Linked DNA regions of Homo sapiens. The protein of the gene in region 2 interacts with the protein of the main gene of each other region in a pairwise test. Each region holds a gene or a part of one and is shown on either strand. Other genes may lie near its edges. The genes, in order: PCSK9, ANXA2, NUSAP1 and ELMO1.

The links.
Region 1: the proteins of ANXA2 (region 2) and PCSK9 interact in binary tests that used the Homo sapiens proteins (3 or more experiments, as listed by UniProt).
Region 3: the proteins of ANXA2 (region 2) and NUSAP1 interact in binary tests that used the Homo sapiens proteins (3 or more experiments, as listed by UniProt).
Region 4: the proteins of ANXA2 (region 2) and ELMO1 interact in binary tests that used the Homo sapiens proteins (3 or more experiments, as listed by UniProt).

Annotation. Positions count from the first base shown.
Region 1 is NC_000001.11:55,049,548-55,056,547, forward strand, and holds part of PCSK9 (proprotein convertase subtilisin/kexin type 9 isoform 1 preproprotein), read left to right. Parts: intron 1-1,644; exon of another isoform or gene 1,645-1,906; intron 1,907-2,730; coding exon 2,731-2,864; intron 2,865-3,099; coding exon of another isoform or gene 3,100-3,102; coding exon 3,103-3,244; intron 3,245-6,445; coding exon 6,446-6,642; intron 6,643-6,989; exon of another isoform or gene 6,990-7,000.
Region 2 is NC_000015.10:60,346,085-60,353,491, reverse strand, and holds the end of ANXA2 (annexin A2), read left to right. Parts: intron 1-1,015; coding exon 1,016-1,109; intron 1,110-1,672; coding exon 1,673-1,768; intron 1,769-2,240; coding exon 2,241-2,299; intron 2,300-4,294; coding exon 4,295-4,417; intron 4,418-5,802; coding exon 5,803-5,862; 3' UTR 5,863-6,341; downstream 6,342-7,407. UniProt on the Homo sapiens protein: Calcium-regulated membrane-binding protein whose affinity for calcium is greatly enhanced by anionic phospholipids. It binds two calcium ions with high affinity. May be involved in heat-stress response.
Region 3 is NC_000015.10:41,370,404-41,378,474, forward strand, and holds part of NUSAP1 (nucleolar and spindle-associated protein 1), read left to right. Parts: intron 1-1,123; coding exon 1,124-1,281; intron 1,282-5,308; coding exon 5,309-5,425; intron 5,426-6,792; coding exon 6,793-6,901; intron 6,902-8,071. UniProt on the Homo sapiens protein: Microtubule-associated protein with the capacity to bundle and stabilize microtubules. May associate with chromosomes and promote the organization of mitotic spindle microtubules around them.
Region 4 is NC_000007.14:37,221,412-37,229,482, forward strand, and holds part of ELMO1 (engulfment and cell motility protein 1), read right to left. Parts: intron 3,620-8,071; coding exon 3,468-3,619; intron 1,283-3,467; coding exon 1,204-1,282; intron 1-1,203. UniProt on the Homo sapiens protein: Involved in cytoskeletal rearrangements required for phagocytosis of apoptotic cells and cell motility. Acts in association with DOCK1 and CRK. Was initially proposed to be required in complex with DOCK1 to activate Rac Rho small GTPases.

The DNA.
Region 1 (7,000 bases), on a different chromosome or scaffold from region 2:
AGGGAACTAGCAGCCCCTGCCTCACCCGGGGGTTTGGAAGATAGAGGGAGGCCTAGGAAGGGCCCTGTGTCTCATCCGAGCTGGGCCCCTTTCCAGCCTCTCACTGGAAGGAAGCCCAAGGATGTTCCTGTGGGGGCTTTTACCAGGCCCACCTGCCCTCTGCTGGCCATGCTTGCAGCCTCCTGACCCTGTCCCAGCAGGACAGTGGGCTGGTGTGAGCGGGCAGGAACCGCCTGCACTTAGAAGGTGTGGGGCTGCCTCCCCGAGCTTCCATCTGCCGCTGGGGCCACACCCCAGGCCCAGGGATGGGACCCCACAGTGGTCACATCATCTTGCAGCAGAACCCAGGTACAGCTCCTGGAGCAGATGGTGGTCCCAAGCACGGGTGGGACCAGAAAGGACTCTCACCTGGGCTAACTCAGCTGCAGCCTCAGTTCCCTCCTCACACACGACGAGGAACATGGACTGGAAGCCTGCCCAGCAGGCCTTCTGCTCGATGTGCGTTGTGTGGCTTACGTCCAGGGAGGGAAGCAGCCTCTGTGCTGTCTTCTAGATAAGCCTGTATTCCCCGGGCTGTCTGCCAATGTATCCAGTTGTCCCGTCAGCCTGGAAGCTCTGAGGGAAAACCTTGGGCTGCTTCCTGAGCACCTGTATCCCCTGCAGCCAGCCCGGGGCCTCTGCTAGGAGCAGACTGAGCATGGCTTATGGGCCTGGCACCATCTGGCCTCTGCCCACCTTGCTGGCCTTGTCTTGTGTCTGCCCCTTCGACATTCCATAGCCCAGCTCAATATCTAGTGGTTCCTCTAGGGTGGCGAGCACTGTTTGGTCTCCAGATGTCTTCAGGTCGGAGCTCACAGCGCTCTCAGCCACCCCTTCCCAGTGTAGCACCGGGCACATGGTAGATGCCTATTGATGAGTGAAAGCTCCTAACACACTCAGAGAGCAAGGACTCCGCCTCATCCCACAGCCTGGGAGGAGAGGCAGACTGCCAAGGACCTGCTCAGCATGCTACAGAAGAAACCAAAGTGCCCACGGGACTGATCAGTGGAGCTTCCTGCCGAGACTGGAGGCCTTAGGGCAGGGTAGACAGTGTGTGTGCAGGCTGGGGACTCACAGTTCGGACTGTGCCCAGACCTACTAGCATAGTGGGTGGGTGGGAGGATGCGGGACTGGGGGCCGACCTTGCCTGAAATTCATGTGGGATCTCAGAGCAGCCACTGAATTGCTCTGTAGGGGGCTAAATAGTGGCCCCCACAGATACACACACCCAGACAGAGCCTGTGAGCCAGACCTTATTTGGAGAAAAGGTCTTTGTAGATGTAATTAAGCATCTCAAGATGGCATCATCTGGATTATGCGGTGGGCTGTAAGTCCTGTGATGTGTCTTTATGAGAGAAAGGCAGAGGGAGATTTGACACACACAGGAGGGGCCACGTGGAGACAGAGGTGGAGATTGGAGAAATGTGGCCACAAGCCAGGGAACACCAGCAGCCACCAGAAGCCGGAAGACGTGAGGCAGGGTTCTTCCCAGAGCCTTCGCTGCTGAGTCTGGGAATTTGTGACCGAAGCCATAAGAAGTGGGTACACGCCCTGAGCCTCCCACACTTGCTCACCTGTCCTGAGATGAGAATCTCTACTCTGCAGCATATTTGGAGGATCACTGCGGGGGCCACAGAGGTGCTGTTCAGATGGCACTTCAGAAGACTCAGGAGACCCTGGGGCAGGAGCAGTTTGACTGACAGCCCAGAGGGCTGCCCTCTGATTCCACCTGAGGCCCTGCTTTTCCTGGCTGCAGGGGTTCCAGGGCCAGGCCATTTCCGCTGGCGCAGGACTCTGCTAGCAGCAACCTGCCTGAAGTCTTCCTTTGGCCTGGCTGAGAGTTTCTGAGACCTGCGCTGGAGCGGAGGTGCTTCCTTCCTTGCTTCCTTTCTTCCTCTCTCCCTTCTCCATCCAGCAGGCTGGACCTGCCTGGCATCTGTGAGCTCTCCCTACTTTCTCCTATACCCTAACCTTTGTCCTGCATGGGCGACTCCCCCAGTGAGTCTCTTGCAGCTTTTACCCCAGTGCCTGCTTCTTGGAGAATCCAAACTGATCCAGTTAGGGATGATAAAGTGTAGGGTAGGCGCTCGGTGACTGTTTTCTCTGAGGTTGTGACTCGTGTGAGGCAGAAGCAGTCCCCGTGAGCCCTCCTGGTATCTTGTGGAGTGGAGAACGCTTGGACCTGGAGCCAGGAGGCCCAGACATACATCCTGTCCGAGCTGCAGCTTCCTGTCTCTAAAATGAGCCGGCCAGCGCAGGTGGCCAGACATCACTGTTATTCTCCTTTGAGTCTTTAAATCTTGTTGTCTTTCTTGCAGACTCGGTGAGCTGTGAAAGGCTATAATAGGGGCTTTATTTTACACTTTGATACTATTTTTTGAACATTCATATTATTGTTAGATATTGATATTCATATGAAGGAGCAGGATGACTTGGGTCCTTCTTGGCAGTAGCATTGCCAGCTGATGGCCTTGGACAGTTACCTGCCCTCTCTAGGCCTCCCTTTCCTTGTCTATGAAATACATTATAGAATAGGATGTAGTGTGTGAGGATTTTTTGGAGGTTAAACGAGTGAATATATTTAAGGCGCTTTCACCAGTGCCTGGGATGTGCTCTGTAGTTTCTGTGTGTTAACTATAAGGTTGACTTTATGCTCATTCCCTCCTCTCCCACAAATGTCGCCTTGGAAAGACGGAGGCAGCCTGGTGGAGGTGTATCTCCTAGACACCAGCATACAGAGTGACCACCGGGAAATCGAGGGCAGGGTCATGGTCACCGACTTCGAGAATGTGCCCGAGGAGGACGGGACCCGCTTCCACAGACAGGTAAGCACGGCCGTCTGATGGGAGGGCTGCCTCTGCCCATATCCCCATCCTGGAGGTGGGTGGGGACTGCCACCCCAGAGCGTTGCAGCTGTACTCCTGGGTTGCACCCCCCCCAGCTGTCACTGTCCCCTCCCTGCCATCAGTTGTGGGAAGGGCGTTCATCCATCCAGCCACCTGCTGATTTGTTATAGGGTGGAGGGGGGGTCTTTCTCATGTGGTCCTTGTGTTCGTCGAGCAGGCCAGCAAGTGTGACAGTCATGGCACCCACCTGGCAGGGGTGGTCAGCGGCCGGGATGCCGGCGTGGCCAAGGGTGCCAGCATGCGCAGCCTGCGCGTGCTCAACTGCCAAGGGAAGGGCACGGTTAGCGGCACCCTCATAGGTAAGTGATGGCCCCAGACGCTGGTCTCTCTCCATCTGGACCTGGCCTGGGAGGTGGCTTGGGCTGGGCCCAGGGAGAGCTAATGTCTCCTAACCAAGAATGCTGTGGCAGCCTCTGCCGCAGAGCCAGAGAACCAGAGTGCCAAGGCTGGCAGGGTTCCCAGTGGCCACGAGTGCAGATGAAGAAACCCAGGCCCCAAGAGGGTCATGCAGGTAGCCCAGGGAGTTCAGCCTTGACCCTGGGTCAATGACCTTTCCACAGTTCCACACTGCTCCCCTTTTAAAATCCGGTGATGTCTTTATGTCTTTTGTTATGTTATCTTCAATGTGGAGGGACTCGAGGTGATCTAAGCAAACTTTTTCTATCTTCTGCTTGCATACCTCTGAGACCAGGGGACTCACTCACTTGCATGACTGGGCCCTGCAGGTCACACTGGCCAGGCAGATGTGGTGGAGGAACTGGCAGAGGACTTTTTCTAGACTGTGACTACATTTAGTCCACCCAGCGGCCCCCCTATGAAGTCCAGTTGAGAACTAGGACTCTGGGGGCCGGTGGACAGAGAAGAGGGAGGGTTCTCTCCCTTACTGACTTCCTTCTGTGGCCAGACATTGAGCAAGGCCTCTGTACAGCATGTCCTGGGGCTGGCCTTGCCGTAGCTGCTAAATAGTTGACGAAACCAGTCCAGAGAGGGGAGGTGACTGCCAGGGTCGCACAGCTCAAGCTGGGGAACTCGCTGGGAAAACTGTCAGCTCTGGGCAGCAGCTTGACTTCCACTGTAAGCCCCAGCCCCCAGGGTCAAACACTGGCTCTGGTGCTGGCAGAGGCAGCCCACTAGCCTGTTTCAAAGGCTGAGAAGGCCCAGGAGTCTGCCCTGTGCTCCACCAGTTCTGCCCTGAGACTTTCCTACAGAGTACAGGTTTTGATGTTCAGTTTTAAAGGCAAGAATCAATAACCTTCTGCCCCATCAGGTGACCCCTTGTGCCTGTCCCACCCCTTTATTGACTGACCTCGGCTCAGTCAGGTCAGTTCCTGAAGGTCAGTGTGTGGAGGGGAGGCTGTTCTTTCCCAGAAAGGCCTTCCCCAGGCCTGGTGCTCTGGCCTCTGGAGGACTTCCTGGAGAAGTCCCTTCTTTGGGGTCCCAGTCAGTGTATGGGAAGCCCTTATTGCATGACCTGGCACGGGGCAGGGGCTCAACAGTCACTATTGCCTTCCTTGCCACTGCCATTTCCTCCTCTGTAAGCAGGTGATTGTGTGTCCAGTCTGAGCACAGAGATAAGCACACAGCAGGTGCTTAATAACTAGCAGCTGTAGGCTGGGCGCGGTGGCTCATGCCTGTAATCCCAGCACTTTGGGAGGCCGAGGTGGGCAGATCACCTGAGGTCAGGAGTTCGAGACCAGCCTGTTCAACATGGTGAAACCCCGTCTCTACTAAAAATACAAAAATTAGCCAGGCATGGTGGTGGGTGTCTGTATCCCAGCTACTTGGGAGGCTAAGGCAGGAGAATCGCTTGAACCCAGGAGGTGGAGGTTGCAGTGAGCTGAGATCGTGCCACTGCAATCCAGCCTGAGTGATAGAGCGAGATTCCATCTCAAAAATAAATAAGTAAATAACTAGCAGCTGTAAATGTGGCTGTTGTTCTTCACCTCCACACTCAGTGCCACTCCACTCCCTCCCTCCGTGGTGTGAGGGGCCTCACTAGCTGTCTCCTAGGAGGAGCATGGCTGTGAGATTCCAGCTCCATCCTTGGCCACGGCTCCTGGAGACATCTTAGAGGCCAGGATCCAGAAGGCTCCCACACCTCATTTGACAGGGGAGAAGCTGTCAGTTCCAGGTCCCCTTGCACATCAGGGCCAGAGCTGCGTTAGGCCTCCAGTCTCCAGGCCACTGGGCCAGAGCTCACAGGCTGGCAGAGGGTTAGAACTGTTACTGGTGGCTGGGTGCAGTGGCTCACGCCTGTAATCTTAGCACTTTGGGAGGGCAAGGCGGGAGGATCATGAGGTCAGGACATCGAGACCATCCTTGCTAACACGGTGAAGCCCCGTCTCTACTAAAACTACAAAAAATTAGCCGGGCGTGGTGGCAGGCGCCTGTAGTCCCAGCTACTCAGGAGGCTGAGGCAGGAGAATGGCGTGAACCCGGGAGGCGGAGCTTGCAGTGAGCCGAGATTGCGCCACTGCACTCCAGCCTGGGCAATAGAGCGAGACTCCGTCTGGAAAGAAAAAAAAAAAAAAGAGCTGTTACTGTTGACAGTAGCATGAGGTAGACCATGGCCTGCACCAAAATGGGGGAGTGGAGTGCCACTGAGGCCAGAAGGAACCACACCCTCAAGGGTGGGGAGTTATGGTATGGGGGGTCCTAGGCATGGAGTCTTTTAATTCTTTAGACAATCCTGGGAGCAACTGTCCCTGTTTCACAGAGGGCGGGGCCACACAGCTGGTGAGTGGGCAGCCAAGACTCTGTTCAAGTTTGTGTGGGTCCAACACTTGCGGCCACGGTGGAGGGGCATCTGAGCCAGGCCTCAGAGAGTGGCGGGGGAAGTTGGGTGGGGAAGTGTGCCCTTCTCATTCCTCTGAGGCTCATCCTCTTGGTGCCTCTCTTTCATGGAAAGGGATAATAAGGTTATTGTGAGGATCCCCTGAGTTCGTATATTCAGACGCTTAGACAGAGCCAGGCACAGAGAAGGGCCCGGGGTTGGCTAGTTTGATTGCTGGTGTAATTGCTAATATCTTCCAGTTTGTATTGGTCAAGGTTCTGCAGAGAAGCAGAACCAGTAGGATGTATATATTAAGAGTTTCAAGCTCATGTGACCGTGCGGGCTGGCAAGTCTGAAATCCGCAGGGCAGGCCAGGCAGGCTGGCAATTCCTGCAGAATTTGATGTTGCAATACTGAGTCCTAAGGCAGTCCTGGGGCAGAATTCCTTCTTCCCTGGGAGGCCTCAGTCTGTTCTCTTAAGGCCTTCAACTGATTAAATGAGGCCTGCCCAAGTTATAGAGAGTAACCTGCCTTACTCCGTCTTCTGATTTAAATGTTAGTCACATCTAAAAAATATTTTCGCAGCAGCATTTCCACTGGCTTTTGACCAAACATCAGGCCACAAAGTTGATCCCCAAAATTAACCATCACTCTGTGCCTGTAAGGGAGGGGCTGGGAAAGGGGAGCAGGTCTCCCCAAGGGGTGACCTTGGCTTTGTTCCTCCCAGGCCTGGAGTTTATTCGGAAAAGCCAGCTGGTCCAGCCTGTGGGGCCACTGGTGGTGCTGCTGCCCCTGGCGGGTGGGTACAGCCGCGTCCTCAACGCCGCCTGCCAGCGCCTGGCGAGGGCTGGGGTCGTGCTGGTCACCGCTGCCGGCAACTTCCGGGACGATGCCTGCCTCTACTCCCCAGCCTCAGCTCCCGAGGTAGGTGCTGGGGCTGCTGCCCCAAGGCGCGGGTAGGGGGCGGAGGGCGGAGGGCGGAGGGAGGGCGGGCGGGCAGGCGGGCTTCTTGTGGCACGTGGGCTTCTTGTGGCACGTTCCTGGAGGCCGAACCCTTCTGGCTTTGGAAGGAGTCGTCAGAGACCCCCGCCATGCGGGAGGCTGGGGAGGAAGGGGCTCGAAACCTCCATCATCGCAGAGTCTGAATAGCAGTGGCCCCGCCATGCGCCCACGTAGCGGCGCCTACGTAGCCACGCCCCCACACCCCGTCCTGGCCACTCTCCCTCCTGAAGGTCTTCTGGTACCCGCCCCCTCCCCATCTCCATCCCCAGGCCCTGCGTCC
Region 2 (7,407 bases):
ACTCAGGCTTTGCTTGTATGGAAGCATCAGTTTCTGCAGAGTGTAATGTGGCTGTGCATACCAATCAGGCAGGCAGGTGGGAAGCAGAAGAAGGTGGAGGAGACACAGCCAGGGACAGGATGGTGTACTGCTCTGTTGTGGTGGGGGAGAAAGGGAGGCCAGCAGAGACCTGTCCTTTTCTGGCTGAATAAGACTTTTGCCAGTTCTAGTTCCATTATCTCTGAGAACTATTTGTTAAGCTTATTCAGACTGCAATGAACTATATTCTTTACTCAGAGGGACAACGATTATCTCAAAGTAAGTCATAAAAGCTGCAGAAAAAAATTAATTTAAATTAATGTTAGTTTTAAAATTCAATATATTCCACACGGCACTTCTAGCAGGTAGTAGAGAAGGGTTTTAAATAAAGTAATAGAAGTTGGGTTTTGCAGTTCCTAGATGGTGGAAGATCACGGAATGAATATCTACCCTTGCATAAGCCTTTCTTCCTCTTGCCCTCCCTGCCATTGTTAGGGCTACTTGTAGCCCCTAAATTTTCCAGAAACTGAAAGTGAGATGAGATGGGCTCCTTTTCCAGCTCCATCACTCCCTGAGTCTCTGAGAAGCTTGAGAATGAGAGCCTGGTCTGTAGCTGTCCAGTAAACATCTGCTAGCTTATCTGCCCCTAAATGTGCCCAAAGGGAGGAGGGCCAGATGTGTTAATGAACATTTACTTGTTCTTCTTTATATGAATACAAGCTCTTGGTCCCTCCTTTCTTATTCAAGGAAGGAGATTGTACAGCAGACCTCACGAACTATCTGCAGTCTCATATGGTATCCATCTGTGCCTAAGGAAGACTGCTTGTGATTAAGACTTTTGACCTAAATAGTAGGTCTCTGCCCATGTCTGCAGTATAATCATCTTTCCTCGTTTGGCATTTTGAATGTGTAGCTTTTTTTGTTTTTTTTGCATGACATTTTTTTTGACGTTACATTGGATGTGTAGTTAACTTTTCCTGGTTGGTTGTACTCGTAGGATCTCTATGACGCTGGAGTGAAGAGGAAAGGAACTGATGTTCCCAAGTGGATCAGCATCATGACCGAGCGGAGCGTGCCCCACCTCCAGAAAGGTGGGCACTGTGCTGAGGGAGTCTCAGTGCCTTGGGGCCCTGGCTGGGGCGGCTGGGTGGATGTCCATGTTGGGATGGAGTCTGCCAGAATGAGGTTCTGTCTCCGCTTGGCACTCTCATAGGCTCACCCATTTTCCCTCACCTTTCTCTCCCATTCTGGATTCTTTTCTCTTGCAAATAGTTTCTGCATTTGGTGCTTTATTCTGCAGCTCCTTCTTGTTTGATGATCATTTGGTCTTGCCATTATTTGTTGAAGTAGTGGACTTTGGTGCATGCTCTGTACTGTTTCCTATGGTTTTCGGATGGAATGGGTTCCACTCAGGGGAGATAGAGATGGTCCAAATATGTGGCCTGGGCAGTGCCATTCAGGACAGGTGGTATGGCTGTTCCACGACAAACTTGGCCAATGTTGGCTCTGGTCACCGTGGTAACCTCTAAGCTCCTAGGATGCTGTGATCATCCTCAATTTTTAAAAAAATTATGGTGCATAAAACTAGGTGGGTGATCGTTGACAGCTTTGACTAGTGGCTCGGATCTGATAACTCTTTGTTGTTTTTCCTCAGTATTTGATAGGTACAAGAGTTACAGCCCTTATGACATGTTGGAAAGCATCAGGAAAGAGGTTAAAGGAGACCTGGAAAATGCTTTCCTGAACCTGGGTAAGTGAATGTGGCCCCCATTCCTGGTAGACATCAGCTACCAGAGCAGAAGTGACAGATGGCCATCCTGTTAATCCAAATGTGTTTGGGAGGTGTGGCTTCTATGCATGCTTTGGATAGTTTTACAGTCTTAATTGTATAGATTTCAGAATATAAAACTGAAGAAAGGCCTAACTTGGTAACAGATTGTTGCCAGGGAGGAGTAAGAGAACAGGAGGAGAGAGGGGTGTGTTGTGGAAACTCACGTATGCACTTGGGTTCTGCAGGCCTCAGAGACCCCTGGTTTAAAACCGTGGTGGAACTTAGTATTGCAGAGGATTTCTAGATTTCCCTTAGCCTGTCCTATTTTGCAGCCCTTTTCCATTGCATTAGGTCACTTCTGGTTTGTGGCCCAGGGCCAGGGCATCCTCTCTCATTGGTAGAGGAGAGACCAGAGCAGCTGCAGCGCTGACTCCCTTTCTTCTCTCCACAGTTCAGTGCATTCAGAACAAGCCCCTGTATTTTGCTGATCGGCTGTATGACTCCATGAAGGTAAGGGCAGCTGGCTGAGAGAGCTGTGTTTCCACACTCAGCTTTTCTTCTTTTGGGTCCCAAATTGAGTCTCCTTGATTCATGGATGGAGGAAGGGGACCCCACTGTGTGGATGCAGGAACACACTAGTCAGCTGTGGTTGTATGTGACAGCTGAGAGAACCACAAATCTGTCTTCTTTCTCTCAGCTGCTTGAACATGTATTTGCGTACAGACAAAAAGTAAAGTGCCATGGGAGAGAGAAAATGCGACATGGTAGTCGTGTCTGATCCCTGCTTAGGTTTCTCCGTGATTTCTTCCTGTTACTGCCAGAGTCAAGACAAGCGAGGAAGGGAGCGATTATTAAGCACCCACTATACAGTGGACAAGTGCTACTATTTTACCTTAAATCATTGCATAACAACCTCTGAGGCTTATGATTATCTTCTTTATAAATGCAGAGATGGAGCTCAGAATACCTCAGCCTGCTTGAAGTTACACAGACAGATTTGAACCTGGGTCTATCAGACCCCAAAGACAGCCCCACAACCCTTCCCTAAACGAACCACCTCTTCCCGTAGACCCATCCCATTTTCTACACCTCAAGTGTGCCATGTGTTTTCTGGCTTCTAGGCTTTTGCATTTTCCTTCTGGAACATCTCCCTTGTCTGTGCTGCCTCTGCCATCTGTCTTTGAGTTCCATATCAAATAGCACCCCTTGGTGCCTTCGCTCTGATGCTCTGGAAGTAAACTCAGTGGTCTTTATTGCACATATCATTAGAAATGGCACAGAGCGATGATAGAAATGTGTTGGCATGTTCCCTCTAAGCCTGCAAGAGTCAGGAACCTCTTGTTACATATGGAGACTCAGACTGCTTGAACTGAGCCTTGCAGTAGTAGGTGCTCAGTATATATTTATTGAATGGTGGCATAGAGTGGGAGTCTGTGCTGACTACAGCCTGGTGTGTTTGGAATTCCCAGATGCTCTTCTTTCTTTTCTTTTCTTGTCTTGTCTTTTTTTTTCTTTCTTTTTTCCTCCCTCCCTCCCTGCCTTCCCCTGCCTCCCTGCCTTCCCCTCCCTCCCTGCCTTCCCCTCCCTCCCTGCCTTCCCCTCCCTCCCTGCCTTCCCCTCCCTCCCTGCCTTCCCCTGCCTCCCTGCCTTCCCCTCCCTCCCTGCCTTCCCCTGCCTCCCTGCCTTCCCCTCCCTCCCTGCCTTCCCCTGCCTCCCTGCCTTCCCCTCCCTCCCTGCCTTCCCCTGCCTCCCTGCCTTCCCCTGCCTCCCTGCCTTCCCCTGCCTCCCTGCCTTCCCCTGCCTCCCTGCCTTCTCCTGCCTCCTTGCCTTCCCCTGCCTCCCTGCCTTCACCTCCCTCCCTTTCCTTCCCCTCCCTCCCTTTCCTTCCTTTCCCTTTCCCTTTCTTCTCTCTTTCTCTCTCCTTCCTTCCTTCCCTTTTTCTTTCTTTCTCTCTTTCTTTCTCTCTCTCTCTCTGTCTTTCCCTCTCTCTCTCTGTCTTTCCTTTCTTATAGGTTTTTGGGAAACAAGTAGTGTTCGGTTACATGAATAAGTTCTTTCGTGGTGATTTTTGAGATTTTGGTGTACTTATCACCCAGGCAGTGTACACTGTGCCCTAATATCCCTTATCCAAAATGCTTGGGACCAGGAATGTTTTATATCTCAGATTTATTTTTGATTTTGTAATATTTGCATATATATGATGAAATATTTTAGGGATGGGACCCAAGTCTAAACTTGAGATTCATTTATGTTTTATATAGACCTTACACACATAGCCTAAAGGTAATTTTATACAACGCTTTTGATAATTTTGTGCATGAAACAGTTTGTGTTAAGTGCTGTATGTGGAATTTTTCATTGTGGCATCATGTCGGCACTGAAAAAGTTTTGGATTTTGGAGCATTTTAGATTTCAGATTTTCAGATCAGGGATGCTCAACCTGTAGACGCTTTCTTTAACGATAACATTCTCAGCGAATGTAACAAATATCAACTTGATTTTCAGGGCAAGGGGACGCGAGATAAGGTCCTGATCAGAATCATGGTCTCCCGCAGTGAAGTGGACATGTTGAAAATTAGGTCTGAATTCAAGAGAAAGTACGGCAAGTCCCTGTACTATTATATCCAGGTAAGCCCGAGGTGCAGTGTCAGCCTGCCCTGCCGTCCAGAGCACCCCGGGCCCTGGCAGGTGGCCTGGCAGAATGATGACAGAGTGGCGATTTTCTGTTTTCTGACTCTCTGGGGAAGAGATGCTAGTCATCAACTATCAGGGATTTATTTTGAAAGCACCATTTGTGATTTGTCCTGGACTTTGTACAATCAGGCAGATGTTTTATATTTTTCACATCTGTTACTCTACAATGATCATCGGTGTTCATGACGATGATCCTGCAAGGCTTGCTGACATCCCGAAGAGGCTTGGAAGATCAGTTACATTTTACTTTTTTTTTTTTTTTTGAGACGGAGTCTTGCTCTCTCGCCCAGGCTGGAGTGCAGTGGCCACAATCTCGGCTCACTGCAACCTCCGACTTCTGGGTTCACACCATTTTCCTGCCTCAGCCTCCCAAGTAGCTAGGACTACAGGCGCCCGCCACCACACCCGGCTAATTTTTTTGTATTTTTAGTAGAGACAGGGTTTCACCGTGTTAGCCAGGATGGTCTCGATCTCCTGACCTCGTGATCCGCCCGCCTCGGCCTCCCAAAGTGCTGGGATGACAGGCGTGAGCCACTGCGCCCGGCCACATTTTACTTTTATTATGCATTGGTTCCTTGAAAAATCCTCTGGGATAGGCCTAACAACTTTCAGTTATTCAGAACTCCCATCTCTCCAATCAGTTTAGCATCTGTCTGTTTTGATGTGATGTCGCATTTGCAGTAAGGAAGTGATGGCATTCACAGTGGTACCACTGTGTAGATTTCAGACAGCCCTTGCAATTCCCCTTTCTAGAAGTTCCTCAGATGTCCAAAGGCATGCCCATGGTTAGCAAGGATAAAGTTAGAGCTGGATTTTTTGTAGCCAGGTTTATTAGGGCACATGTTTAAAGTCAAAGGACCAGTTAGACTCTTAGTAATTGTTCCTCACCTCACCAGCTTATTTCCACTTGACCTTAATAATGCAGGAAATAGGAGAGTGAGCTAGGAAAGTACCCTGTTTTCTGTGGAAAGACGAGGACGAGAGAGGAAAGTTAGGGTGTTTGTAGGACCTTGCTGCAGTAAGAACAGCCCTGGTCACTAACCTATGTCAATCCTCAGCACCTTGCACTCCCTCCACCCCACAGTCCTAAGGAGCCTTGAGTGTCTTCCCCAGCACCTCCTCCGACCACACTCCTGGAGGCTTCCCTGGCAATGGTTTGGGTGTGGCCTTCCAGGCCTTTGTATCAGGGCAGGTCTCCTGCAGAGTCTTCTCTTTGTCATGGGAGAAGCTTCATTGTGCGTTGAGGCTACTTCTGTGTTATTGAGGAGTCTGGGCTTTTTTCTGATACCACGTTTCTTTTCTTTCCTGGGCCATTGTAGCAAGACACTAAGGGCGACTACCAGAAAGCGCTGCTGTACCTGTGTGGTGGAGATGACTGAAGCCCGACACGGCCTGAGCGTCCAGAAATGGTGCTCACCATGCTTCCAGCTAACAGGTCTAGAAAACCAGCTTGCGAATAACAGTCCCCGTGGCCATCCCTGTGAGGGTGACGTTAGCATTACCCCCAACCTCATTTTAGTTGCCTAAGCATTGCCTGGCCTTCCTGTCTAGTCTCTCCTGTAAGCCAAAGAAATGAACATTCCAAGGAGTTGGAAGTGAAGTCTATGATGTGAAACACTTTGCCTCCTGTGTACTGTGTCATAAACAGATGAATAAACTGAATTTGTACTTTAGAAACACGTACTTTGTGGCCCTGCTTTCAACTGAATTGTTTGAAAATTAAACGTGCTTGGGGTTCAGCTGGTGAGGCTGTCCCTGTAGGAAGAAAGCTCTGGGACTGAGCTGTACAGTATGGTTGCCCCTATCCAAGTGTCGCTATTTAAGTTAAATTTAAATGAAATAAAATAAAATAAAATCAGTTCCTGAGTCACACAATCCACATTTCGAATGCTCAGCTTTCACATGTGGTCAGCAGCTAGTATATCTGGACAGCGCAGGCAGGGAACATTTCGATAGAAAGTTCTGTTGGGCAGCAGTACATGCCCAGGGCATGAGAGGACCTATGGGGGAGAAAAAGGGTCCCAGAGGGACCCCTTATCTGCTTATCTTTCTACAGGTTAATTAGGTGAAAATAAGCATCAGGGGCAGCCACAAACTGGAGAGAGCAGTGGGGCAGGGTGGGGCAGGCTACAGCATTCTGGCAAAGGAGATCCAACACAAGCCGATGGGAAGCACGGAGAAGGGATTTCTTTTGACTGGGAGGATTGAGAAAGATGATAGAGAAAAGGAACAATTTGAGCTGCACACTAAAATCTAAGGTGAGGTTTTACAGCTGGGAGAAAGCACTCCATGCAGGTTCTTAAGGGTCTGGGAATGAATGACAGGTCGCTGATACAATGGTACACATGTCAAAAAGTTCAGAGACTTCTTTCTGTACAGGGAAAGTTATGTCTCTCCCTTACTAGCCAGTGGCCTTCCCTGGAGTCGCCTGGTTTCCAGTACATTTTCATGGATAGACTGCATACGCATGTATATATATGTATCTATCTGTGTTCATAAATGTGAAGGTGCTGTCCCCAGGCTGCTGGTACTGGGTTCTGCAGATTCCTTTTTATACAAGTGCTCCCCATAAGCAGGGTAGAGGGCTGGGAGTGAGGGGAAGTTGACTACTCCTCCTAACCCTTCTCCTTAGTGGAGGGTGTGTCAACTACTCATTTTTGGCACCTGGCTGATGCAGGGCCCACTCAGTCATCTGCAGGGACTAGGTAGGTAATGGAAATGAATGTATGAAATGGGCAGGTTGGACAGAAGTGGGGAATCTGGGGAAAATGGGGAATGCCTGCCTTGCTTGAGGCATTCAAATTCAATTCAAACAACAGTCGTAACAACATGGCATTGACCAAACCAAATACATCCGTGAGCTGATTGGCTGCTATTTTGGCCCTTTGGCAAACTTTAGATGGAAATTTGGATCGAGCATGGCT
Region 3 (8,071 bases), about 19 Mb from region 2:
CCAGGAGTTTGAGAGCAGCCTGGCCAACATGGCAAAACCCCATCTCTACTAAAAATATAAAAATTAGCTGGGCGCGGTGGCTCATGCTTGTAATCCCAGCACTTTGAGAGACTGAGGCAGGCGGATCACCTGAGATCAGGAGTTTGAGACCAGCCTGACCAACATGGTGAAACCCCATCTCTACTAAAAATACAAAATTAGCCGGGCATGGTGGCGCATGCCTGTAATCATAGCTACTGGGGAGGCTGAGGCAGTAGAATCGCTTGAACCTGGGAGGCAGAGGTTGCAGTGACCCAACATCGCACCATTGCACTCCAGCCTGGGCGACCGAGCAAAACTCCATCTCAAAAAAAAAAAAAAAAAAAAAAATTAGCCAGGCGCAGTGGCACATACCCATAGTCCCAGCCACTCGGGAGGCTGAGGCAGGAGGATGGCTTGAGCCTAGGAGGCAGAGGTTATAGCAAGCTGAGATCATACCACTGCATGCCAGCCTGGGTAATAGAGCCAGAACCTGTCTCAAGAAAAAACACTACCAATTAACTATTGACATCTTATGAATTGTAAAAACACATCCCAATTTCAGAGATGTTAAAATGTAGAAAAAATACTATCAGTCAATCAATCAAATACATTTGTGGCAATTTGCCATATGTAAAGAATGGTAAAGAATGGGCTTATTTCTCTACCACACAAATGAATGACATTCTTTTAGGAACATACAAGACCTGTTCTCACCACTCACCTAGCATAGCAGTCTTCTGCTACCTGTGACTTCCCCTAACCTGGAGGAGGAGGAGGAGGAGGAGGAAGGGGAGCTTTTGGCTTGCCTCTTGGACTATAATGAGGCCTCCACACCTATTCCTCCATCACCATCATTGTCCAAGGCAGGGAGAGCAGAAAAGACAAGAACATATTTTACAAATAATGTTAGTTGATATGTGATTTAATTTAGCATTAGCCTTTTAGGAATATGTCTCTTCTGCAAAAGAGGTTCGTTCCTATGACAATTATTAATTGAGGCCCTTTTCACTGCTTGCTAATAGTCAAGTGGTTTTATTTATAAGCTAGACACAAGTTACTCTTGCCACAGTACTCATGTCTTGTACTCTGCTGTCCTATTTAGGTTTTCAGCTGCTACTAAAGATAATGAGCATAAGCGTTCACTGACCAAGACTCCAGCCAGAAAGTCTGCACATGTGACCGTGTCTGGGGGCACCCCAAAAGGCGAGGCTGTGCTTGGGACACACAAATTAAAGACCATCACGGGGAATTCTGCTGCTGGTAAAAAAAAAAAAAAACAAAAGAAATCTGTTTCATTTTTAAGCCATGTAACTTCCCAAAATGATTAGGTATATCTGTTTTTTTTGTTTGTTTGTTTTTTTCTGAGATGGAGTTTCGCTTTTGTCACCCAGGCTAGAGTGTAATGGCGGGATCTCGGCTCACTGCAACCTCTGCCTCCCAGGTTCAAGCAATTCTCCTGCCTCAGCCTCCTGAGTAGCTGGGACTACAGACACATGCCACCATGCCCGGCTAATTTTGTATTTTTAATAGAGACAGTTTCACCATGTTGGTCAGGCTGGTCTCAAACTCCTGACCTCAGGTGATCCGCCCGCCTCGGCCTACCAAAGTGCTGGGATTACAAGCGTGAGCCACTGCGCCCGGCCTGTATCTGTTTCCTTAAACCCTTTCCATTTCTATAATCAAAAGCAAAAATTTTACCATAGTGTATTTTTAATTGTGTACTAGTGGGGGAAATGCCAGAGACATAAGCAAAAACCAGATATCTGCCTGAGAGCTCCATCTAATCCTAAAATGGTGACCCTCCAGGAAGGGCACTGTGCCCCTTGTGGGACTCAGGGATTCGGAGGATGAGCACAGTATTCGTTGCAGCCTCGGAAAGGTCCTGGAGGACTCTGACACTAACAGGATCCCAGACCACAGACTTCATGTTTCAAGATTCAACCATGTTGACTCGTTTTCACAGTATTTTTCAGTGGTGTGGGTATATGTCAGTTTATCTATTTTACTATTCACGAACATGTGGGTGGTTCCAGCTTCCATTATTATATATGATGTTGCTATGAATACTCTTAAACATGTCTCCTGTACATGTGCAAGAGTTTCCCTAGACCTAGGAGCAGGACAGCTGGATTGGAAAATATGCAGACATTTACTGTCCTGAATGAATTGTACCAATCTGTGCTTCCAGTGGCAGTGTATGGCAGTCCCTTGTTCTACTCCCTGTCAGCATTTGATACTGATACAGTGGGATAGCTTGAACACAGGGTTTTGTGCTTTTTTTTAACTAAGTGGTCTTAGATCCTGATTGCTGTTTCACAGATGTAGGCAAGGGTTCACATTTGGCAATGACCTGTGGCTTCCCCCTATGAAAAGAAAGGATTGGCCGGACGCAGTGGCTCTTGCCTGTAATCCCAGCACTTAGGGAGGCCGAGGTGGGTGGATCACTTGAGGTCAGAATTTCAAGACCAGCCTGGCCAACATGGTGAAACCCCAACTCTACTAAAAATACAAAAATTAGCCGGGCATGGTGGCATGCACCTATCATCCCAACTACTCAAGAGGCTGAGGTAGGAGAATCGCTTGAACCAGGAAGCAGAGGTTGCAGTGAGCCGAGATTGTGCCACTGCACTCCAGCCAGCCTGGGCAACACAGTGAAACCCTGTCTCAAAAAAAAAAAGAGATTGGGAGAGAAAGGATTAACTGATGGCCAACTGTAGCAAAAAGGCTAACTAAACTACACCATCCTTAGGCTGGGCATGGTGGCATGGAGACCAACCTGGCCAACATGGCAAAACCTCGTCTCTACTAAAAATACGAAAATTAGCCGGGCGTGGTGGCACGCGCCTGTAATCCCAGCTACTCACTTGAGAATCACTTGAACCCAGGAGGCAGAGGTTGCACTGAGCTGAGATCACATCACTGTACTCCAGCCTGGGAGACAGAGCAAGACTCCGTCTCAAAAAAATTAAAAAAAACTACACCATCCTGGATATTTTTAACTTCGTGGTGCAAAAATTCATATTCTTTTTTTTTTTTTTTTTTTGAGACGGAGTCTCACTCTATCACCCAGGCTGGAGTGCAGTGGCACCATCTTGGCTCACTGCAACCTCCGCCTCCTGGGTTCACGCCATTCTCCTGCCTCAGCCTCCCGAGTAGCTGGGACTACAAGTGCCCGCCACCACGCCCGGCTAATTTTTGTATTTTTGGTAGAGACAGGGTGTCACCGTATTGGCCAGGTTGGTCTTGAACTCCTGACCTCGTGATCCGCTCACCTCGGCCTGCCAAAGTGCTGGGATTACAGGCATGAGCCACCGCGCCCAGCCAAAAATTAATATTCTGAAGTGATAAGAGCCCTTATTAATAATATTCCTGACTTTAAACAATCCTCCTGCCTCAGCCTCCCAAAGTGCTGAGATTACAGGTGTGAGCCATATCTGTTATCAGGGAAATAAGCTGAAAAGTTACCGTCATTTCCTTCAACAGAATTCTAAACTCCCAGCTGATCCTAGGATCCCAGCACTTTGGGAGGCCAAGGCAGGTGGATCATGAGTTCAGGAGATTGAGACCATCCTGGCTAACACACTGAAACCCCGTCTCTACTAAAAATACAAAAACAAAATATTCAGAACATTTACAAAGCTGCTTAGCAAAGGAAATTAATCTCAATGGTTAGCTTTCCTCAATTATTGTTTTCCCCTTTTCTCCATTTTAACCCTTATTTCAGACTTTCATCTATTTCAGACTATTCATGTAGATTGTCTTAGTCCTTTGCGGCTGCTATTATATAACAAAGCACCAAAGACTGTATCTTATAAACAGCGGTAATTTCTTTCTCATAGTTCTGGAGGCTGGATGAGGGCAGATCAGGGCACTAGCATGATTCTGGTGAGGGCTGTTTTCCAGGTAGCAGACTACCAACTTCTTGTTGTATGCTCATGTGGCAGAAAGAGAGCTAGAGAAAATTCTATGGGGTCCCTATATAAGGCCCTGAATCCCATTCATGACCTATTTACCTCCCAAAGGCCCTACTTCCTTACACCAGTCATATTGACAGTTAGGATTTCAATATGAATTTGGGATCGCAGGAGATACAAACATTCAAGCTATAACTTTTTTCTTTTTTTGAGACACAGTCTCACTGTCGCCAGGCTGGAGTGCTGTGGTGCAATCTCGGCTCGCTGCAACCTCCGACTCCCTGGTTCAAGGGATTCTCCTGCCTCAGCTTCCTGAGTAGCTGGGATTTTGGGCACACGCTGCCACGCCTAGCTAATTTTTGTATTTTAGTAGACACGGAGTTTCACTATGTTGGCCAGGATGGTCTCGCTCTCTTGACCTCATGATCCACCTGCCTCGGCCTCCCAAAGTGCTGGGATTACAGTCGTGAGCCACTGCACCCAGCTTCTTTTTTTTCTTTGTTTGTTTCTTTTGTTTTTTTGAGATGGAGTCCCACCCTGTTGCCCAGGCTGGAGTGCAATGGCGCAATCTTGGCTCACTGCAAGCTCCACCTCCCGGGTTCAAGTGATTCTCCTACCTCAGCCTCCCGAGTAGCTGGGATTACAGGCACGTGCCACCACACCTAGCTAATTTTTTTTTTTTCCCTCTCTGAGATGGAGTCTTGCTCTGTCACCAGGCTGGAGTGCAGTGGCACGATGTTGGCTCACTGCAACCTCTGCTTCCCGGATTTAAGCAATTCCCCTGCCTCAGCCTACTCGGCATGGGACTACAGGCATGCACCACCACGCCCAGCTAATTTTTTTTTTTTTTTTTTTTTAAACCAAGTTTCGCTCTTGTTGCCCAAGCTGGAGTGCAATGGCGCAATCTCAGCTCACCACAACCTCCGCCTTCCGGGTTCAAGCAATTCTCCTGCCTCAGCCTCCCGAGTAGCTGGGATTACAGGCATGTGCCACCACCCTGGCTAATTTTGTATTTTTAGTAGAGATGGGGTTTCTCCGTGTTGGTCAGGCTGGTCTTGAACTCCTGACCTCAGGTGATCCACCCGACTCGGCCTCTCAAAGTGCTGAGATTACAGGTGTGAGCCACCACACCTCTAGATAATTTTTTGTATTTTTGTGGAGACAGGGTTTCACCATGTTGGTCAGGATGGTCTTGATCTCCTGACCTCGTGATCCGCCCACCTCGGCCTCCCAAAGTGCTGGGATTACAGGTGTGGGCCACCATGCCCAGCCTATAACGTGTATTTTTAAGATTGAGAAGTAACACTTTGATAAACACTTTACCAGGTCTTTGTTTCTAATTAAGCTCTTGGGTTTTTTCGGTGTGTTTTTAGTTATTACCCCATTCAAGTTGACAACTGAGGCAACGCAGACTCCAGTCTCCAATAAGAAACCAGTGTTTGATCTTAAAGCAAGTTTGTCTCGTCCCCTCAACTATGAACCACACAAAGGTATGTGGGAGTGTTTTGAGCTACAGGGCCTGTAAAATACTTAAGATTGGTGGGACGCAGTGGCTCACACCTACTAAACATACAAAAATTAGCCAGGCGTGGTGGCAGGCACCTGTAATCCCAGATACTTAGGATGCTGAGACAGGAGAATCACTTGAACCTGTTAGGTGGAGGTTGCAGTGAGCCGAGACCGTGCCACTGCACTCCAGCCTGGGCAACAAGAGTGAAACTCCATCTAAAAAATAAAAATAAAAAATAAAAACTTAAGAATAAACAAATTCTGCGGCCGGGCGCAGTGGCTCTGGCCTGTAATCCCAGCACTTTTGGGAGGCTGAGGTGGGCAGATCACTTGAGGTCAGGAGTTCGAGATCAGCCTGGCCAACATGGTGAAACCCCGTCTCTTCTGAAAAAAAATAAGAAAATTAGCCTGGCGTGGTGGCGGCGCCTGTAATCCCAGCTACTTGGGAGGCTGAGGCAGGACAATCGCTTGAACCTAGGAGGCAGAGGTTGCAGTGAGCCGAGATTGCACCACTACACTCCAGCCTGGGTGACATAGTGAGACCACGCCTCAAAAACAGGCTGGGCGCGGTGGCTCACGCCTGTAATCCCAGCACTTTGGGAGGCCAAGGCAGGCGGATCATGAGTTCAGGAGATCGAGACCATCCTGGCTAACACATTGAAACCCCGTCTCTACCAAAAATACAAAAACAAAATTAGCTGGGCATGGTGGCGGGCGCCTGTAGTCTCAACTACTCGGGAGGCTGAGGTGGGAGAATGGTGTGAACCCAGGAGGTGAAGCTTGCAGTGAGCCGAGACCACACCACTGCACTCCAGCCTGGGCGACAGAACGAGACTCTGTCTAAAAAATTTAAAAAATAATAATAATTAAATTTAAATTAAAAAAAAAAGCAACACATAAACTTCAAGAAATTTGGTCCCAGTTCTTTTTGTAAAATTGCAAATTGGTTGGACACAGTGGCTCATGCCTGTAATCCCAGCACTTTGGGAGGCCAAGGCAGGCAGATTGCTTGAGAACAGGAGCTCAAGACCAGCATGGGCAACATGATGAAACCCCGTCTCTACTAAAAAATACAAAAATTACCCGGGCATGGTGGCATGTGCATGTAGTCCCAGCTACTCATGAGTCTAAATTGGGAGGATCACTTGAGCCCAGGAGGCGGAGGTTGCTGTGAGCTGAGATCAGATCACACCACTGCACTCCAAACTGAGCGACAGAGTGAGATTCTGTCTCAAAGAAAAAAAAAGTATAAATGTTGATAGCAGGTAACCCCACAGATGAAGAGAATGAAGTTGGGAATATAAATCAAACAATCTTTTTAAAATTCTTTGTCTCTGTCCTAAACTAGGAAAGCTAAAACCATGGGGGCAATCTAAAGAAAATAATTATCTAAATCAACATGTCAACAGAATTAACTTCTACAAGAAAACTTACAAACAACCCCATCTCCAGACAAAGTAAGTACATAATTATCCAGCTTTATAATTATTTTAATTTCAAAAGCAGCACCTCTGAGGGATAGGGGCTCAGTAATAGTGGTGTTTTAAGAGGAGGTTAGAAGTGGTATTATGGCCGTGTGCGGTGGCTCACGCCTGTAATCCCAGCACTTTGGGAGGCCGAGGTGGGCGGAACACGAGGTCAGGAGATCGAAACCATCCTGGCTAACACGGTGAAACCCCGTCTCTACTAAAAATACAAAAAATTAGCTGGGCATGGTGGCGGGCGCCTGTAGTTCCAGCTACTCGGGAGGCTGAGGCAGGAGAATGGCGTGAACCCAGGAGGCAGAGCTTGCAGTGAGCCGAGATCGCGCCACTGCACTCTAGCCTGCGTGACAGAGCCAGGCGCCGTCTCAAAAAAAAAAAAAGTGGTATCATGGGCCAGGCACGGTGGCTCACGCCTGTAATCCCAGCACTTTGGGAGGCCGAGGGGGGCAGATCACGAGGTCAGATCGAGACCATCCTGGCTAACGCATTGAAACCCCATCTCTACTAAAAATACAAAAAATTAGCCGGGCGTGGTGGCGGGCGCCTGTAGTCCCAGCTACTCGGGAGACTGAGGCAGGAACCTGGGAGGCAGAGCTTACAGTGAGCCGAGATCACGCCACTGCACTCCAGCCTGGGCGACAGAGTGAGACTCCGTCTCAAAAAAAAAAAAAAGTGGTATCGTGTATATAACTTTCTGAGTACATCTGCCTAGGTTCCAGTGTAATGGACTCCAAATCAGCAGATTTGGGGTGAGGCCCAAGCACCTGCATTGTTTCCAAGGCTCTGCAGGTGATTCAGAAGAAGACCCAGATTCAGAGCACTGCTCTTGCATGACTCATCTGCCTAAACACAGGGCATGTGGGTATCTCTCCAGATACCAATGCCCAGCAGCCCAGGGCACCTACATATCCAGATAGACATAAATTCCTCACTCCTAAGAAAACCAGGCTTACAAGGCGTCAAGGCCCTATAAAGAGGAAAAACCCAGGACGGTCCTTAGAGGCTTCCTTCAGCATGAAAACCAAGTTAAAGCCAGAGCTCATCCTGGGTTGCAGCAAGTCATGGTTGGGCCCAGATTCCCTGCTTGGACCCTCGTGACACAGGGTTACCTGTCAGTTGACTCATGGCTATACACGACTGCCA
Region 4 (8,071 bases), on a different chromosome or scaffold from region 2:
GCTCCCCAGCATAGTTTCTAGGTGAGTGAAAGAGCTCATATTCCCACCCACTTTTTTAAGGAAGGAAATTGTGACCAGGGTAACATATTACATGACATGTTGATTGAAAAAAACATGAATGGATTTTGAGGTGTGACCTAAATTCCAAGACAAGGCAAAATTCCACTTCTTCACATCCCCTCTGTAATGCTCCTTTCCTTCGTGAAGAAAGAAATAAAGGATCTACAGACAAAGGACACCATCAGAGGAAAGGTTCCATGTATGTATATTAAGGGGTTCCTTCCTTTTTTTTTCTTTTTTTTAAGATAGTCTTGCTCTGTCGCCCAAGCTGGAGTACAGCAGTGTGATGTCAGCTCACTGCAACCTCTGCCTCCCGGCTTGGTTCAAGTGATTCTCCTGCCTCAGCCTCCTGAGTAGCTGGGATTACAGGCGTGCACTATCATGCCCAGCTAATTTTTGTATATTTAGTAGAGATGGGGCTTTGCCATATTGACAAGGCTAGTCTCAGCTTCCTGACCTCAAGTGATCTGCCTACCTTGGCTTCCCAAAGGGCTGGGACTACAGGTGTGAGCCACCGCACCCGGCTCTTTTTATACAGGAGAGGAAACAGATGGCTCCAATTTCCCAGCCACATCCACACACAGAAGTAAGTAATCTCACCAAGCAAGGAGCCCCTCTGACATACGAATGCAGTTATCTCCACAAGGAGCAGCCATCTGCATATTATCCCTCCTGTCCTCTTACCTTCCATCACCTCCTTCCTTGGGAAAAACATGGCACCCCTCAGGGTCTGTTTCCTGATACAGAAAATGAGAACAGCACTTCCCTCAACCTAGTGAGCATCCCATGAAATGACAGAAGGTCGCAGGGGCTCCTAACTCTGCTTCCACCACAGCAGCGTTTTCATCTTTTTACATCTGGGCTTCCAGGTTGCATTTCATTTCATGAAAAGGCTCTACTGCTGGAACACTCCTAGCATCCCTCATCAGTCAAGGGCTTATCCATCTCTACCCACTTGCCCCTGGATTTGGGAAGGACCCCAGCGGGCCAGCCGTGCAGCGGAACATAGCTGCTCTGGAGAGTCCATCTGTGGCCAGGATAGCAGAGAGGCCCAATGAGTCCCCGAATAGAAGGAGAGGGCGTTCTCTGCACACAAAGTTCCTAGCCTTGACATAGCCATAAGACTAAAGAAATGCAACTTACCTGCCTCCTCTCATCAGGAGCCTTCAGGAAAAGCGCATTAATCACTGCAATAGTATAGGTTTGGATTTCTTGATCTGACCTGTAAAGATAGAGAACAATTCAGAAAATCAGAACACGAAGTCAGAAGAGGCTAGCCCTGGGTCAAACCATGAAAAGGCTCAAAATCAGCCCCCTCCCCCCAAAAAAAGTGAGAGAGAAAGGCAGGGCCTAGAAAATGCATTTTGCACTGAGAATGCATTTCAAACATCACAAGGTGGTAAATATACAACTACTATTACTAGCTGACAGTACACTGGTCAGTGCAGAATGCCCAGAAATATAGGCAGCCTTCTCTCTTATTCAGATTAAAGGCATAAACCTAGGGGATGTTGTAATTGATGTACTACTAGTAATAGATGTATGTATGTCTGTATGTATGTATGTGTATGTGTATGTATGTGTAATTTTCTGTCTGATACATGAAATATATCAGGGAGTAGTTTCAGATGTCTCCACATTCTTGGGCTAATTGGATGGCTCTATTATATATTCTAAAAATCTATTTCCAAATATAAACATTTCAATAACAAAAAGAACAGGTGTTTGTTTATAAATCTGATTTTCACTGGAAAGGAACCAGAAATAATAAAATGAAACAAAGCTCTAATGTAAGGCAAGTGGTAAACAGTAAATAAGGAGGACTCAAGGCATAAACAAAGAGTGACTTATGAGCTACATTTAGGAATAACTTATCAGGCCAGTGAGAGAGAGGTGGAGCTTAGAACTAGGCCAGGATAGGGTGCAAAGCCCAGTTCATCACAGGCTGGCTGAGACCTTGGACAAGTTCATGAGTATCCCCCAAGGCACAGTTACCTCATCTACAACATGGGGTTAGACACACTTATTTCATGGGATTGCTGTGAAGATAAAATGAGATTATGCATGTAAAATCCTTAGCACAGTACTTGGAGAATAATAAACTCTCCACTTTGGTAACGTGCTTTGGGATGAAGATGTGTGCCTTTGAGATTCCCACAAAAGACACAGTATATAAATTAATACAGTTCACATTCAAAGGAAATGTGAAACTGGTCTTATTTCTAGAGAAGCTACCTTACATTATCATCATTTTGAAGAATTATGATTCTGAGGCCACAATCACGGAGGCCACCACAATCCTCAGCTTCTGTGACTTAAATTTTAAATGTTGGTAATCCTCCCACCTCCAAATGAAAATAATATCTAATATAATCTGCTTTGGTAGTTTATATTATCAACACAACAGTTAACATTTCAGAGAACCATTCCCACCCTGCACCACCAACCCAAATGGGCCAATTGGGTTTCCTCTTGAGAATTTGTAATTGTGACCTAATGGACCAGGGGCAACAGTTAGGGGGAGTTGGGTCACTGTAGTGCCAACCAAAATGCTAGAGAAAAGGCCATCTGCTGAGGACTCCGGGGAAGCTATGGTTTCTCTCCTTCTCAAGGCTTAGCTACTTATGTCATTTCTGGATTCTACAAAGTACCCCAGTATTGTTCCAATAACCTCCTTTCCTGTGTAAGCAAGCTCATAATGTTTATTATCACTGCAATCCAAAATACTTGAATTTCTAAGGTAGCACTGTACAATAGAGTCCTTCTCAGGTTGGTATTGTCAGAGACAACCTTCCTAGTTACCTCAGGGAGGAAAGAAGGGGAAAAATGCCTCAAAGACTGCAGGCTGCAGGGGCAGCTATCTTATGTCCATTTTATAGCTCAAGCCACTAGAAAAAATCCTACATTTTATTATAAAATACAAAAGAAGAAGCTCACTAGAATCACCTTGAGCATAACTAAGAAAGAAGCCTGCCTTTAAAAATTCCTAGTAAAAATGCATAACATTACATTTCTAATTAACTATGAAAATACTCATTATATCACAGAAAACATTAACTTACATGGTTTAAGAAAGAGAACTTAAGAGAACAAATCATCCTGTTTTATCTTCTTAAAAGTAAAACTCTGCCAATATCTACCAATATCCATTAAAACTGAGAGCTTACCAAGGGCCAGGCGTGGGGACAGGCAATGCCAAGAACCAGCTTGGAGTTCAGTGAGGGACAGAGGCCAAGGGAAAGTAACCATGCCATTCCAGTGTGACACGTGGTTTGGTTATATGCCAAATTGAGATTCTTTTTCTGTACATTTAACCAAACTATAACAACATAAAACGTTTCCCAGTGCATTACCGTGGCCATCTTCCTGAAGCATTTCTCCTCCCCAGAGCATCTTGGCATGCTTACCCTTGCAGGTGTGGAATGAGCTGGCCGATGGTGATCTCCTGCGCCACTTTCTGGTAGAGGTCATGGCTATTGAGCACCATCGACTCCAAAATGGCCAAGGACCGCTGCAGGATCGAGATGTCTATGGCTGACTTGTTCACAAAACTTGCTATCTGAAAATCCAAGTGGGACACAATTGACTGCTCGTGGTAAGTAGAGCAGAGACGTGGAGAAGGGAACAAATGAATCAAATCGGGAACTCATTTAAGAAACACCAGGCACTGAGGATGACCTGGAATTACAGCAAAATAGCAAGAAACCCATTGAACTAGGGATTGTTCATGATATCATTACAAAGCATGATTTATCTCATCTCTATAATTCACTGATAAGCAAATGTTTTAAAAAAGACACACCTCCAAGGATTATTCTTTCTGTATTTCCTAGGATTATTCTCCTGAGTTTCATCTTTTAGGGGCAGACAATTTCAACACATATATTGTAAGGATACCTGTGTTTCTCTGGGATGGTAATGTCAACATATGTTAATTGCCATTCCTCTTGCATTCCCAGGCTACTCCTTCATCCACACAATCCATGGCTTTTATATGCTTATTATGTTCTTGTTGCATTCTTAAGGGACTCGCACAAATCTCACTTGTCAACACAATTCAACTGGCAACTTCTCAGTCACCGGCCACTCTCTTAAACGAAAAACTCGTTACCCCTTTCTTCCAATTTCTGATGGTTAAAACAAGTTCTTTTCATCTCTCCCAAATTTAGCAAACAGGAAATCATTTAAGTGAGCAGTACTAAAAGTTAAAATACTACTTTAAGCTCCAAAATAGATTCTCTAAGGAATTAATCACTAAATCCCCAAACATAATAAATCACAATGTGAGCGGAAAATAAAATAGAGGTTAGAATAATGGATCGCAGTAATCCAAACACATGGGTACCATAAAGGTTTTATTTTAGAGGCCTCATTAAAAGTTATTACTGTCTGTTGACAGCTCACAATAAAAAGCCATTATTATATCAGCATAATGACTGTTCTTAAAAGCTAAATAACTTGGTTCCACGACAAGTAAACTCTTGCTGCTTCCCCCCTGTCAACACTAATTTCTCCCTTTTTTGCTGCCCCAGAGACCACTTGCCTCATCTCCTCTCCATCTTTGCACATGATAAATGCACAGCACACCATGGCAGTTCCCAGGTACCATCGGAATTGTCCCTAGTCCGCTGATTTCCAGGTGAAAGGAGGGGTGGGAGACGCAGATACCAACACTCTGCCTACCCCAGCTACATCTGGATCTCAGGGGTGGGAAATAATGTGAAGAAGTGCAGTGACATTATGATTTTACATTCCGAAAAGCTATTATTTTAAAATACAAACTTCAGGAAGAGTATGGAAATTTTCAGGTTCTCAAAAGACTGCTTCAGCTCTTCTCATGGCTAATAACCTTCTCCGACATGTTTACTATCCTTGGCAAGCCCTTGACTTATTCCTCGCAGTCTGCTCCAATCCACCAAATCTACCATGCTAAGGCCACCCTTCTTTCCCTAGGTCCATCTTTCTCTGACAAAAATCCAATTATTGTCACACTGTGTTCAGGGTTTAATACTTAACTTAGACATCTTCTAAACAGAGGATAAATTATCTGACTCCTCCCCCACCCCACCAAACCATTTTTCACGCTCTCGGCATAATTCTTGGCACTGGTATTAGGAAACTGAAGAACTCATAAAGAAATTCATTGACAATACTTCAGATTTTCTTGCAACTAATTTTCTCCTCATTCCCGGCTCCCCTGCTTGTCTCTATTTATTAAATTTGGATGTGCCTTAAGGATGCATGGAGGCTTCTGCCTGAGAAGCTGTTGCTGATATTGTCAAGCACCCTCCGCCTCCATCTTTATCCACTCTTTTCATTCAGCCAATATTTACTCATCATTAAGTGATCCATTTCAGTAACATGCATTGCGTGTGTACTATGTAACAGGCTTGCCCTGTCCCACAGAGCTGGAAATACAAAGATGAAAATAACAAACTTCAAGGACCTTACAGTCTAGTATGGACAGATAAAAAGGCATTTACTATGAAGTACACTGCGGGCCTATTCTTGGCATCCAAAAGGATGCCACCATTTGGATATTCCAAAAAAGCCAAAAATTAAAAAGGGGGATTATCAATCTCATTGTCTTCCTACTCCTCTCTTCCCAATTATCACTCTTTTCTAAGAATCCATAATCACTGGTGATTCATATTTCCAGCTGCCTATTTTATATCCCTGTGATACATCTGACATGTCTCCGTTTTGATACAGAGTATATACAAATAACACTGGCCCAGTGGTCTAACTCATTGCTGGGTTACTGAAACATAATCTTCTGCAGTTTATTTTATGTTCAAGTTTTCCATCAAATGGAAATTTACCCCCTGAATTAGTTGCCTACTTCCATAAATATCCTTTTTACAATATTTCCTTTCTTGAAATATTCAATCAGAACTCTCAGTGTTTTCTTCTTTTTTATTTTTTATTTTTTGAGACGGAATCTTGCTCTGTTGCCCAGGCTGGAGTGCAATGGTATGATCTCAGTTCACTGCAACCTCCACCTCTCCAGTTCAAGCAATTCTCCTGCCTCAGCCTCTTAAGTAGCTGGGATTACAGGCATGCACCACCACGCCAAGCTAATTTTTCTATTTTTAGTAGAGATGGCATTTCACCAGATTGGCCAGGCTGATATCGAACTCCTGACCTCAAGTAATCCACCCGCCTCGGCCTCCCAAAGTGCTGGGATTACAGGCATGAGCCACGGTACCCAGCCTACACTCAGTGTTTTCTGATATGAAGTATACCTTCTCATAATGGGTTTTAAAGTTCTCTATAAATCATTAACTCTTCTCTGCTGCCAGTGGGCTTGCTCAATGGTGGTAAAAATAATTTGCTGTCTTTGCTTTAATTCAGGCATATTTATATCCCACATACATATTCCATTTCCATTCATTATTTTTCTCCTAAGAAATGAATCCCTTACTTTCATGAAAGTATTCTTTAAAATTCATGTTCCTAGTAATTCACCTCTTCCTTGACATAAATAAACTAATCATTTCAGCAATCCTAAAGCATGTTACATAATGAGCATTTTGTGTAACACACCTGGGGCACTCAATGCATTACAGTCCTATGTACAAGTCTGAAGTAGATGCTAATGGTTTTCTGAAACTTAACTTCTTTCTTTTGTTTTATTTGTCACTGGTTTTAGCCAGATATTCAAATGACCTAATACTTCCACTTAATGAGTATTAATAACCAACGCATCAGGGCTGATCCAAGTGAATGTAATAACTGTCGTCCTCCAGGGAGCTTGAGACCAACTCCTTATAACTGAATGTATAAATTAGTTAATGGACACATGTCTCTACGTCCAGTTTGAAAACTATAGATCTTCATATAGCTAGAGAAGGTTATTCATGCCTATTTAAATTTTCATTTCCTTTATCCCCCAAAAGAGTAATAATGATTCCCTCTGCCTTTCAATTTATCCCAGCTCCATTACTGTACTTTTGGGTGACACAAGTGAGCCAACCCAAGCCAGCCACAGTACAGCTTCTCGAAAGTAGGCCTGTAACATAAGGAAGAAGCAAGAGGAGTTAGCAGTAATTAATTATACACACTAGCTCCTTGTACTGCTCATTCATTTAAAAATCTTGGCTAAATAAGAGAAATACTTATGTAACTTTTAAGAAGCTAAGGGGCATTACAGTGCATGAATCAACGATCCAATAAATACTTCTTAGAATCACTTAGAATGAGATCTTAAAATTCTCCTATGTTATCAAAACCTAAAAGAATCATGGAGGGCCGGGCACAGTGGCTCACACCTGTAATCCCAGAACTTTGGGAGGCCGAGGCGGGTGGATCACGAGGTCAGGAGATCGGCTAACATGGTGAAACCCCCATCTCTACTAAAAATACAAAAAATTAGCCAGGCGTGGTGGTGGGCTCCTGTAGTCCCAGCTACTTGGGAGGCTGAAGCAGGAGAATCGCGTGAACCCAGGAGGCAGAGGTTGCAGTGAGCCAAGATCACACCACTGCACTCCAGCCTGGGTGACGGAGCGAGACTCTGTCTCAAAAACAAAACAAAACAAAAAACCAGCCATGGAGAACATGAAGCTCCACTCCTGTATTTAAAATTATCTAGGTAGATGCCTGTAAATCTCTCAAATTTTTAAGAGGCAAAAATTACCAGGTCTCTAAAGCAAAATGGTGGGATGTTTGTCCAGGCACTGAAAACATTTGCGGGGTAAGCCAGGTTCTCCTGCACAGCTAGGGTTTCAAGAGCATTTATATGAAACTTTCCTTCCAAAAGAAGGCACTGATGTTATACTTGGCTAGGGAAAAACCAACTCATAACACCTAAAGTTTTTTTTTCTTTTCTTTCTACTCCATATTTTCTTACTCTCTCCCTAAGTAGCCGAGTCTTTAAAATGCAACATTATATATTGGTATCAAGGAATTCCAAGTTTCAGAGCTGTTTATGAAATGATGCTATTTATTGCAGCCAAAATTTGTAAACCAGAATCTAGATTCACACATAACAAAACAGATAAAGTAATAGAGA